3 linked regions of the Homo sapiens genome follow. The protein of the gene in region 3 interacts with the protein of the main gene of each other region in a biochemical or structural test. Each region holds a gene or a part of one and is shown on either strand. Other genes may lie near its edges. The genes, in order: PRMT1, PRPF40A and DHX9.

Evidence for each region.
Region 1: the proteins of DHX9 (region 3) and PRMT1 form a complex in vitro, tested with the Homo sapiens proteins (one study listed by BioGRID).
Region 2: the proteins of DHX9 (region 3) and PRPF40A form a complex in vitro, tested with the Homo sapiens proteins (one study listed by BioGRID).

The regions. Positions count from the first base shown.
Region 1 is NC_000019.10:49,680,120-49,683,870, reverse strand, and holds part of PRMT1 (protein arginine N-methyltransferase 1), read right to left. Parts: intron 3,732-3,751; exon of another isoform or gene 3,636-3,731; coding exon of another isoform or gene 3,618-3,635; intron 3,385-3,617; coding exon 3,283-3,384; intron 1,962-3,282; coding exon 1,806-1,961; intron 1,755-1,805; exon of another isoform or gene 1,676-1,754; coding exon 1,612-1,675; intron 1-1,611. UniProt on the Homo sapiens protein: Arginine methyltransferase that methylates (mono and asymmetric dimethylation) the guanidino nitrogens of arginyl residues present in proteins such as ESR1, histone H2, H3 and H4, FMR1, ILF3, HNRNPA1, HNRNPD, NFATC2IP, SUPT5H, TAF15, EWS, HABP4, SERBP1, RBM15, FOXO1, CHTOP, MAP3K5/ASK1, MICU1 and NPRL2.
Region 2 is NC_000002.12:152,661,782-152,665,532, reverse strand, and holds part of PRPF40A (pre-mRNA-processing factor 40 homolog A), read left to right. Parts: intron 1-1,280; coding exon 1,281-1,395; intron 1,396-1,553; coding exon of another isoform or gene 1,554-1,565; coding exon 1,566-1,657; intron 1,658-1,761; coding exon 1,762-1,878; intron 1,879-2,360; coding exon 2,361-2,498; intron 2,499-2,834; coding exon 2,835-2,930; intron 2,931-3,751.
Region 3 is NC_000001.11:182,842,272-182,846,022, reverse strand, and holds part of DHX9 (ATP-dependent RNA helicase A), read right to left. Parts: intron 3,479-3,751; 5' UTR 3,457-3,478; coding exon 3,346-3,456; intron 2,730-3,345; coding exon 2,589-2,729; intron 1-2,588. UniProt on the Homo sapiens protein: Multifunctional ATP-dependent nucleic acid helicase that unwinds DNA and RNA in a 3' to 5' direction and that plays important roles in many processes, such as DNA replication, transcriptional activation, post-transcriptional RNA regulation, mRNA translation and RNA-mediated gene silencing.

The sequences.
Region 1 (3,751 bases), on a different chromosome or scaffold from region 3:
CCTCCCCCGGGGGCTAGAGCCTGGGGACCCCACTTCAGTTCAGAGAACTGCGTGAGCAGAAGCCATGAACCCTTCTAACAGTTTTAAAATTCATACATCGTTCTGGACATTTTTGAGGCAGGAGCAGAAATTTTATGTGGACTGGGTATCAGGTGATGTTACTTTTTTTTTTTTTTTTTTTTTGAGACGGAGTCTTGCTCTGTCACCCAGGCTGGAGTGCAGTGGCGTGATCTCAGCTCACTGCAACCTCCGCCTCCCGGGTTCACGCCATTCTCCTGCTTCAGCCTCCCGAGTAGCTGGGACTACAGGTGCCAGCCACCAAGTCCGGCTAATTTTTTGTATTTTTAGTAGAGACAGGGTGTCACCGTGTTGGCCAGGATGGTCTTGATCTCCTGACCTCACGATCCGCCCGCCTCGGCCTCCCAAAATGTTGGGATTACAGGCGTGAGCCACTGTGCCCGGCCGCGATTTTGTTTTTAACTGGGTGGTTTTGATATAATAAGTAACAGCATGATCACATTCTCAAAACAGCCTTTATCTATTAGATAAGACACAAGCAGACGCATTTACCGGGAAAATTACATCACAGTGGGAATTTGCTTCAAATGGACTCGTGCGTTCATTATAATAATCTCTTTTTAAAAATCACTTCAGGATGGCACGGTGGCTCACGCCTGTAATCTCAGCACTTTGGGAGGCCAAAGTGGATGGATCACCTGAGGTCAGGAGTTCAAGACCAGCCTGGCCAACATGGTGAAACCATGTCTCAACTAAAAAAATACAAAAAAAAAAAAAGTTCACACCTGTAATCCCAGCACTTTGGGAGGCCAAGGCAAGCAGGCAGATCACGAGGTCAGGAGATCGAGACCATCCTGGCTAACACGGTGAAACCCCGTCTCTACTAAAAAAACAAAAAAATTAGCCGGGCGTGGTGGCTGGCGCCTGTAATCCCAGCTAATTGGGAGGCTGAGGCAGGAGAATCACTTGAACCCAGGAGGCGGAGCTTGCAGTGAGCTGAGATCGTGCCACTGCCCTCCAGCCTGGCAAAAGAGTGAGACTCCATCTCAAAAAAAAAAAAAAAAAAAAAAAAATGCTGGGGATGTACCTATGATGGTGGTCATGCAAAAGAGCGGATGCCGCAACATCCTGGAAAGTGTTAAACGACATGACAAGCAGGTGTAAGAAGCCAAGGGCAAGAGGCTGGTATGAAATGCTACTGGCGTGAAAATTATGCACGAGAATGTAAATGCATTTACGTATGTATGTGTTTGTAGGTCCAGACTTCTCTGGAAGTTAGTGTTGGTTAAACTCAGAGGAGGGCAGCTGGGAAACAGGGAAGGCTTCTCACTGTGGGCCTTCCGTGGCCAACCACGTGACTCTATTACTCATTCAAGAAACTAGAGAGTGCTTCTTGCCCTAATTTTAAGACTGCGGTGCTAAGCCTGTGATTTTGACACTCAGATTCTCAGGCGGCCGGCAGCCCAAAAGACCATGGGTTGGGAGCTGCTGAATCTGTGGTCATCTGTAGACCCCACTGCTCTTCAGAGGGCCCTGGGGAAGCAGGGCATCACCCCCTCCACTCCCACAAACCCATCCTCTTTCTGGGCTCACCGTGGTCTAACTTGTTGGCTTTGACGATCTTCACCGCATAATCAGAGATACTGGAACACTCGATCTGAGGGCCCAGGAAGAAGGGAGGGTGAGACCCATCCCCTGCCCCCATCACCTCCATCCAATCCCTGAGCCCTGATGGGCTCCCCTCCATCCCTCAGGCCCGGCCCCGCCTGGCCACCCTGGAGACTCACCCCGATGACCTTGCGGGCCCCGGCCTTGGCAGCAAACATGCAGAGGATGCCGGTGCCCGAGCCGACGTCCAGCACCACCTTGTCCTTGAAGAGGTGCCGGTTATGAAACATGGAGTTGCGGTAAGTGAGGGTGCGCACCTCGTCCTTCAGCATCTCCTAGGGCAAGAATGGCACAGAGACGCCGTGAGGGGCCCCATATCCCCAGCTGGAGAACAGCGTGTCCTGAGAGCTCGGAGGGCCAGAGCTCGGCCCTCTCGCTTTCTTCCATGCACCTCAGTTTCCCTTTTATATTTATTCATTTATTTATTTTTATTTTATTTTATTTTTTGAGATGGAATCTCACTCTGTTGCCCAGGCTGGAGTGCAATGGTGCAATCTCAGCTCACTGCAACCTCCGCCTCCTGGGTTCAAGTGATTCTCCTGCCTCAGCCTCCCAAGTAGCTGAGATTATAGGTGCACACCACCATGCCCGGCTAATTTTTGTATTTTTCATACAGATGGGGTTTCACCATATTGCCCAGGTTGGTCTTCAACTCCTGACCTCAGGTGATCCACCCACCTCAGCCCCCTAAAGTGCTGGGATTACAGGCGTGAACCACTGCGCCCAGCCAGTTTCCCTTTTTAAAAAATCAGATTAGATGGTCTAAACTCCAATCTTGGCCGGACTTCACCACTGCTACCTAAGAACCAGTGAACCCTGGCTTTTAAAAGTCCTCAGGCTGGGAGCGGTGGCTCACGCCTGTAATCCCAGCACCTCAGGAGGCCAAAGCCGGAGGATCACTTGATCCCAAGAGTTTGAGACCAGCCTGGGCAACAAGGCAAGATTATCTCTACAGAAAAATAAGAACATCAGCTGGGCGTGGTGGCGCGCGCCTGTGGTCCCAGCTACTCCGAAAGTGGAAGTGGGGGGATCACCTGAGCCGGGGAGGTCGAGGCTGCAGTGAGCCATGATTGCACCAATGCACTCTAGCCTGGGCGACAGAGCGAGACCGTCTCTAAAAATAAAAAATGGCAATTTTATGCATATTTTGCCACAATTTTATGAAAAAGGCCTCAGGGGGAAAAGAAAATTCCTTAGAATGCCACCCCAGCTTCGTTCTGGGATTTCAGTGTCTTCAGTCAGATCTGAAGTGTGCAGAAGCTGTTAGGGCGGGAGCAGCCGGGGCGCAGTCCCACCGCCGGTCACTAGAGGGCGGCAGAGACCAGTGGGCCCTGCCCGACCTCTGGCTAAGGCCCCAGGCACGCATGCGCTCTCCCACCCCAGCCTTCGGCGCGAGGCCCCTGCAGAGATTCAGGCTAACCTCGGTCTCCAAGGCAACGGCTTGGCGAGGCGACCCTAGGAAGTGCGCAGCAGAGGGGCAGGGGGGCGGCCTGCGGCCAGGGGAAGCAGTGCGCATGCGTGGGAAAACAGGTTCCACCCCTTCCCCAACATTTAAGCCCCCCTAAGATTGGGGCCTTGGGGACTGTCCCCACTGACCTCGTGGATGCCAAAGTGTGCGTAGGAGTCAAAGTAGTAATCTTTGGATGTCATGTCCTCAGCGTTGGGCTTCTCACTGCTTTCCGCCTGGCCACAGGACACCTGGGAGGGGGCCGATGGGATCATGGGTCAGATCTGGGGGCTCCCCACAGCCTCTTAAACCTCCAGCGCCCTACTTTTCCCTGAAGAGTAGTATAGAACCCCCAAAATCATACCATGACAACCCTACAGCCCCCGCCTGCCATCTTGCCCCCCCAGGAACCCCAAAACCTAACAACCCCATTTTCCACTTCCAGGACCCCCCCAGAGCACCATCCAGGGGAGCACCCCGATACCTCAGCCACGCCTACCATCTCTCCAGTCTCTCTGACCCCGTCTCTAGCTCAGCCCACAGCTGGGGAGGGGAGGGGAAGGAAAATGGGGGCAGACACAGGGAAGGGCAAAGGGGGGTTGGAGGTGGAGTTAAGGA
Region 2 (3,751 bases), on a different chromosome or scaffold from region 3:
ACAGGCAGGGTTTGAGAAAAGAATTTCCGAGTTGTAAGGGAGTATGGACATATTTAGTCTTGTTTGAAGAGGAGTGAGTGCAGTTGTAAGTGCCTGATGTTACTTTGGGACAGCTCTATCCAATAAAAATGTGAATGCCACAAATGCGATTTTAATTTCCTATTTATTTTAGTAATTTAACCCAATATAACCAGATATTATTTTAACACATCAATATTTTTAAAAATTGCTAATATTTGTGGTATTAAATCTTCAAGATCATTGTGTATTTTGTACTTAACAGCACATCACAACTCAGACTAGCTACATTTCATGTACCGAGAAGCTACGTTTGGTCAGTGGCTACCTTATTGAACAGTGCAGGTATAGGAATTGTGGGAACAGAATATAGGGTTACAGTTTCTTTTAGGCACATTTGTGTATAGCAGCGGTCCCCAACCTTTTTGGCACCAGGGACCGGTTTAGTGGAAGACAGTTTTTCTTGGTGGGGTGGGGTGGGGAGTTGGTATCATCAGGCATTAGATTCTCATAAGGACCACACAACCTAGATTCCTGGCATGCTCAGTTCACAATACGGTTTGCAGTCCTATGAGAATCTGATGCCGCCACTGATCTGACAGGAGGTGGAGCTGGGGCGGTAATGCTTGTTCCACCACTCACTTCTTGCTGTGTGGCTTGGTTCCGGTTCCGTGGCTGGGGGTTGGGATCCCCTGGTGTATAGGATTAAACTCCCTGAGGATTGGGTTGGAAGCAGGAAGTGTGGAAATTGAAACTAGATATGGGTTTGAATCCTAGGTCTCCAAACTACTTTGGGAAAATTATACATCCTCCTCTTAAGGCCCCTTGTTTTTTAAAAGTAAATAAAAATACCTAGAACACATTAGGCACTATTTTTAAAGACAGAAAGTATATATTTAAGGAAACATGCATATACATTCTTTAGCCTCATCATTTGAGGTAGATATCCAGTAATTTAAGTTAACTTTTACCTTTTTTTTTTTAAAGCTAAAAATTAGGTTCTATCTTAAAGGGTAGGAAATAGAACCTTAGGAAGATAATGTGCAGTTTCAAAAGTTATTTTCTCTAAAGGACAAAATATTTTTTTGCCTAGAGGCAGTTGTTACTTTGCCCAAATAGCAAATATTCTTTGTGCCCAAACAGGTTTGGGATAACATTGGTAGAAGAGTTTTAACTATGTCAAAGTTTTTGTGTGTTTTCATGTTAGACGCTTATTTCTCATGTACTCGAGATGACTTTCCAAATATAATTTTTCTCCCTAGATATTTTTAGATGAATTACATGAACATGGACAACTGCATTCTATGTCATCTTGGATGGAATTGTATCCAACTATTAGTTCTGATATTAGATTCACTAATATGCTTGGTCAGCCTGGTAAGATTATTTTCTTTCCTAATTTACCGTTATGGTAGTAGTTGAAATGGGCCAAATGCAAAGGTGATTGTGTTGGGGGAAAGGGTGCTTTATTTTTGTTTTTTAAACAACAAAGTAATTGCAGCTCTTTGGTTAGAGCTAGCTTTTGACTTCTTTAGTTTTTTCATTAGGATCAACTGCACTTGATCTTTTCAAGTTTTATGTTGAGGATCTTAAAGCACGTTATCATGACGAGAAGAAGATAATAAAAGACATTCTAAAGGTAAATATATTTATTCTTACCTTTTAACCAATAGTATATCTTAAAAGTTAGTACTGTATTCCTTTGATTTATGCATTATTAATGTTAAGATTTCTTTTTTTTAGGATAAAGGATTTGTAGTTGAAGTAAACACTACTTTTGAAGATTTTGTGGCGATAATCAGTTCAACTAAAAGATCAACTACATTAGATGCTGGAAATATCAAATTGGCTTTCAATAGTGTAAGTTATGTTTTCTGTTGTAAGTAACTAGTTTAGTAGTATAGTTTTTAATTTATTCAGATAAAAGCAGCTAAGTTGCAGAGTGTTGGAATAAGGGAATATGAATAGAATTTTACAGAGTGGTAGCCAGTCTTTCAGGTAAGGTAAAACAAAAAACTTTATTTAGATGATGGATTGATATTAAACTTCCTTTGCTCAAATTAACTGGTATTATACATAAAATGGCCATTATAAATCAGGCCTTGGGCCACACATAAAGTACACTAACGATAGCTGATGAGCTTAAAAAAAAAATTGCAAAAAATCCTTATAGTGTTTTAAGAAAGTTTACAAATTTGTGTTGGGCCACATTCAAAGCGGTCCTGGGCCACAGGTTGGACAAGCTCGTTTTAAACAATGCGTGATTCCTAAATTAACAATAAATTATTTCAGCTAATAGTTATGATACTATTATAACTGATTAAATATGATTTTCTTAATAGTTACTAGAAAAGGCAGAAGCCCGTGAACGTGAAAGAGAAAAAGAAGAGGCTCGGAAGATGAAACGAAAAGAATCTGCATTTAAGAGTATGTTAAAACAAGCTGCTCCTCCGATAGAATTGGATGCTGTCTGGGAAGATGTATGTATACTTGTTATTTTTTTCTAATGGAATTCTTTTCTTTACAGTTGAGAAATTTAAAATATTTTTATTTTTCATTTTATAGCCACAAAAATAAGCTAAATTTATTTGTAGAATATATTAAATATATTTAGAATATAATAAAAGCATTAAATCAGCTGTTGACTCTGTTTAGGAATATTTGTAAAGAATGGTTTGGACTTTTGAAGGGAGGAAATAATGGACTTTAAGGGGACTGATTCATCACAGTTTTCACTTGCTGTTATGATTTATTTTAGATGTATCGTTGTACTTTTCTTGGTATTCATATATTTATTTTGTATCTGAATTTTTCAGATCCGTGAGAGATTTGTAAAAGAGCCAGCATTTGAGGACATAACTCTAGAATCTGAAAGAAAACGAATATTTAAAGATTTTATGCATGTGCTTGAGGTAATTTTAGAATTCTCATATACAAAATATATAAAATATAAACAAATTGAAGAACTTAGAATGATGAAAGTATGTTGCTTAATATTCACTGCTTTTATACAAATGTACTTACCTGGATGGTTAGAGAATGGTTTTTTTCCTATAAAAACTGCTTTTAAGTAAAAGAAACTATTAAGTTTCCATGGGAATATAAAGATTTGTATGTGAAGACTGTTTTGTATTTTTAGAAAGTTTTAGAAATTGAGCAGTTTGGCAGCCACATGGATTGATTGACTAATAAAGAAAACTTGAAATTTTTCTTGTAAAGCAGATAGAAGACAGCTTTTAGGCACATTTGAGGTATTATACCACATTAGCTGTGTAGAAAAGAAAGTTTCTGGAAAGTAATGGAATAAATGGTAAGTTTTTGTTAAAATAAGCAATGAAACAATAACATCTCAGGTCACTTTAATAGGTAAGGTTCACTGGGCACGGTGGCTCACGCCTGTAAAACAAGCACTTTGGGAGGCCAAGGTGTGTGCTGATCACCTGAGGTCAGGAGTTTGAAACCAGCCTGGCCAACATGGCGAAATCCTGTCTCTACTAAAAATACAAAAAAATTATCAGGGAGTGGTGGCGGGCACCTGTAATCCCAGCCACTCAGGAGGCTGAGGCAAGAGAATTGCTTGAACCCAGGAGGCGGAGGTTGCAGTGAGCCAAGATCATGCCACTGCACTCCAGCCTGGGCAACAGAGCGGGACTCCTTCCCCAAAAAAAAAAAAAAAAAAAAAGTATTTTGATGACAGTTTCAGTTAGGCCCTTGTAAGTATGCTGAATTGACC
Region 3 (3,751 bases):
GCTGAAGGTCAAGTCACCAATGGCCAACGATTTAATCAATACTGAATAATGAAGTTTCCATAAAAACCAAAGGACAGGGTTTGGAGGGCTTCCAAATGGCCGAACAGGTGGAGGTTCCTGAAGAATGGTGTTCGAGGCAGGGCATGGGAGCTCCCTGCTGCCTCCGCCATATCTTGCCCTACTTATTTCACCAACTGTATTTTGTAGTATTCTTTATAATAAACTGGTAAATGTAGGTTTTCCTGAGTTCTGTGAGCCACACTAGCAAATTAACTGACCCCAAAGAGGCAGTCATGAAAACCATAACTTGAAGCTAGTCAGTCAGAAGTTCTAGAGGCCCAGACTTGCAAGTGGTGTCTGAAGGGGCTGGGGAGTCTTGTGGGACTGAGTCCTCACCCTGTGGAGTCTGACGCTATCTCCAGGTAGTGTCAGAGTTGAACTGGAGGATACCCTGCTAGTGACTGCTGCAGAACTGATTGCTTGCTTGGGGTGTGTGGAAAAAGTCCCCCACCTCCACCCCACATTTAGTCACAGAAATCTTCTTTGTTGATTGTTGTGGTATGAGAGAAGAGGAAAATTGTTTTTTTTTTTTTCCACTTACATACCAAAAGAGGGAAAAAAATATCTGGTACCCCAGAATTCTACATCCAGTGAAAATATTCTTAAAGAAGGTAAAATAAAAATATTTTCAGAAAGAGAATAAGAGAATTTGTCACTAGCAGATCTACAAGACCATAGAGAAGAGCCTAAAAGATAAAGAATAGAGGGAGACTTCAAACATGTAAAAGACATTTGCAAAACTGTTTTCTCTACCAGAAGGCATTTTTAAGATGATCTTGCCCAATCCCTTCATTTTACAGATAGGCAAACCAATAAAATTAAAGACTGTAAGATACTATAATTACCCAGCAGTTAATCTACCGGAAAGTAAGTCTATCGAGTTCTTAGTCAAAGGAATGGAAGGAAATAAGATTTCTTTCATAACGAGTCAGAATACTGTCATAAACAAGGCAGAATACAAAAATTCAGTAACAGGACCCTGTTAAAACTGGCATAGACAGGCTGGGCACAGTGGCTCACACCTGTAATCCCAGCACTTTGGGAGGCTGAAGGGGGCGGATCACTTGAGGTCAGGAGTTCAAGACAAGCCTGGCCAACATGGTGAAAATCTGTCTCTACTAAAAACACAAAAATTAGCTGGGCGTGGGCCAGGCGCCGTAGCTCCCACCTGTAATCCCAGCACTTTGGGAGGCCGAGGTCAGGAGTTCGAGACCAGCCTGGCAAAAAATGGTAAAACCCCGTCTCTACTAAAAATACAAAATTTAGCTGGGCATGTTGGCAGGTGCCTGTAATCCCAGCTACTTAGGAGACTGAGGCAGGAGAACTGCTTGAACCCAGGAGGTGGAGGTTGCAGTGAGCACTGCACTCCACCCTAGGTAACAGAGCAAGACTCCGTCTTAAAAAACAAAACAAACAAACAAACAAAAAAAACCTTATTTCTTAAAAACTACTAGAGCCTAGTGTAGCGGCACACACCCACAGTCCCAGCTACTGGGGAAGAGCTGAAGTGGGAGGATGGCTTGAGGCCAAGAGTTTGATTGAGCCCCAAAAAGAAAAAAGGCAGAAAAACAAAACAAAAATCCCCCAAAACAACCTACTAGACAGAGGTATTTGTTGCATACTTACGTAATATAATTAAGATAATCATGACATAAAAAACACAAAAATACTCCATTGCATAAAATACTATTTTGTTATATAAGGACATGTCAGCCAGGTGCAGTGGCCCATGCCTGTGATCCCAGCACTTTGGAAGACGGAAGTGGGTGGATGGATCACTTGAGGTCAGGAGTTCAAGACCAGCCTGGCCAACATGGTGAAACCCTATCTCTACTAAAAACATAAAAAATAGCTGGGCATCATGGAGCGTGCCTGTAATCCCAGCTACTCGGAGGCTGAGGCAGGAGAATCGCTTGAACCCAGGAGGCGGAGGCTGCAGTGAGCCGAGATCACTCCAGCCTGGGCGACAGTGCAAGACTCTGCCTCAAAACACAAAGAACTTGCCAGAAGTGGTGGCATGCACCTGTAGTCCAGCTACTAAGGGGGTTAAGGATGAAGGACTGCTTGAGCCCAAGAGTTTGAGGCTGCAGTGAGCTATGGTTGTGTCACTGCATTCTAGCTTGGGTAACAGAGCAAGACCTCATCGCTTACGGGGCAGGGGGAGTGTCAATGGGAGCAAACATGTCTAAAATATTACTGATTTTTCTATTTTATTTAAAGTATTATCATTGGTAATGAATGGAACATAACAGACTCTGAAATTTCTGGTGTATAAATACATGAAATAAAGCCATAAGACACAAAGATTAATGGAATTTCTCAAGCCCCTAAGACAGGTATATAATAAGGATGCAATCCACATCTTCAGAAATTTTGTCCAGTGCTGAGACAAAACAAGATGCCAAATTTCATTACGAAACACGATATATCTGAAAACAGTGAAAAATTACTATCTTGAGTCTCTTACGCATATTGAGTTTGTACAACTTTACAACATACATCTCAAGTGCTTCGCCATAGGTACTTACCCCAAAAGCTGGAACTTCTTCACTCTTTATTTCATTTATTCGAACCAAATAGTTAACAAAGTCTCTGGCAGCATTGCTTTGTGCATCTTTTTTATTGGTGGAATTTCCCATGCCAGTGTAATTATAACCTTCCACCTGAACCTTTAAAAAAAAAAAAAAGTACTAAGAGACTGACCTGGGTAATTCTGAGATTTTAAAAAGTCGTAATTCAGTAGTCCATTAAGAGACAACAAACAGCTAACTTTAGGAAATATACTCTATAAATATAAATATAAAAATAAGAGAATGCATGAGCTACTGAAAAAGCTTAAATTGTGTTGTATCCAAAAATAATTTAAGTGGCTCAGATTTTTTTTTCTCATATAACAGAAGGTTCACATTAAAATCTGATTCTGTAATATCCATGAACAAGCTCTCCATTTGTATTTAAGCACTTTGATTTGAAGCAATCAAGAATTGCTCTGCTTTCTAAACGTGCTTATAAAACTGCAAACAGTTGATCCAACTTTTCCCATCCCCACTACTGGTACTGAGGAAGCTGAGGAAGATATAGGCTCTAATTAGAATAATTTACCTGTCAGATTGTTTTAAAAGTAATGCTGACTTGAAAATGATTTACAATAGCAGTCAAGTCACAATAAAGAACTGTCGTTTCCTAATGTGCAACACATTAACATCTCCAAACAGAAAACATTTTTCTTTTAACCCCAAAATGAACCTCATAAATCACATAAATGCAAACTGTATTCTTCAGTACCTCACACATGAATTTCTGCCTGTTTTTGTTCCCCACTGCTCTAATTTCATAGGATGGGGTCATCTTCCTTTTGCCACACCAGGCATACAGAAAATTTTTAACGTCACCCATGATTCAAGTGTCTTCTTCAGATCTAAGAAAACAAAAGTCAGTTAAAAACAGCATTTATAATAGCAAAAACTGGGAGGAACCAATTATCTAGATTACTGAATCTGGGTTAAACATAGGATATTCTATCATGTTGCTATTAAGACTCCCCATAAATTTTAACGACATAATTGGAACGTTTATATGTTGTAAGAAAAAGGATACAAAACGGTATGATTTGAACTTCATGAAAAGTACATATACATGATCAAGACTGGAAAGAAATACCCCCTAAAATGGTTATCTTTGGGGACTAAGA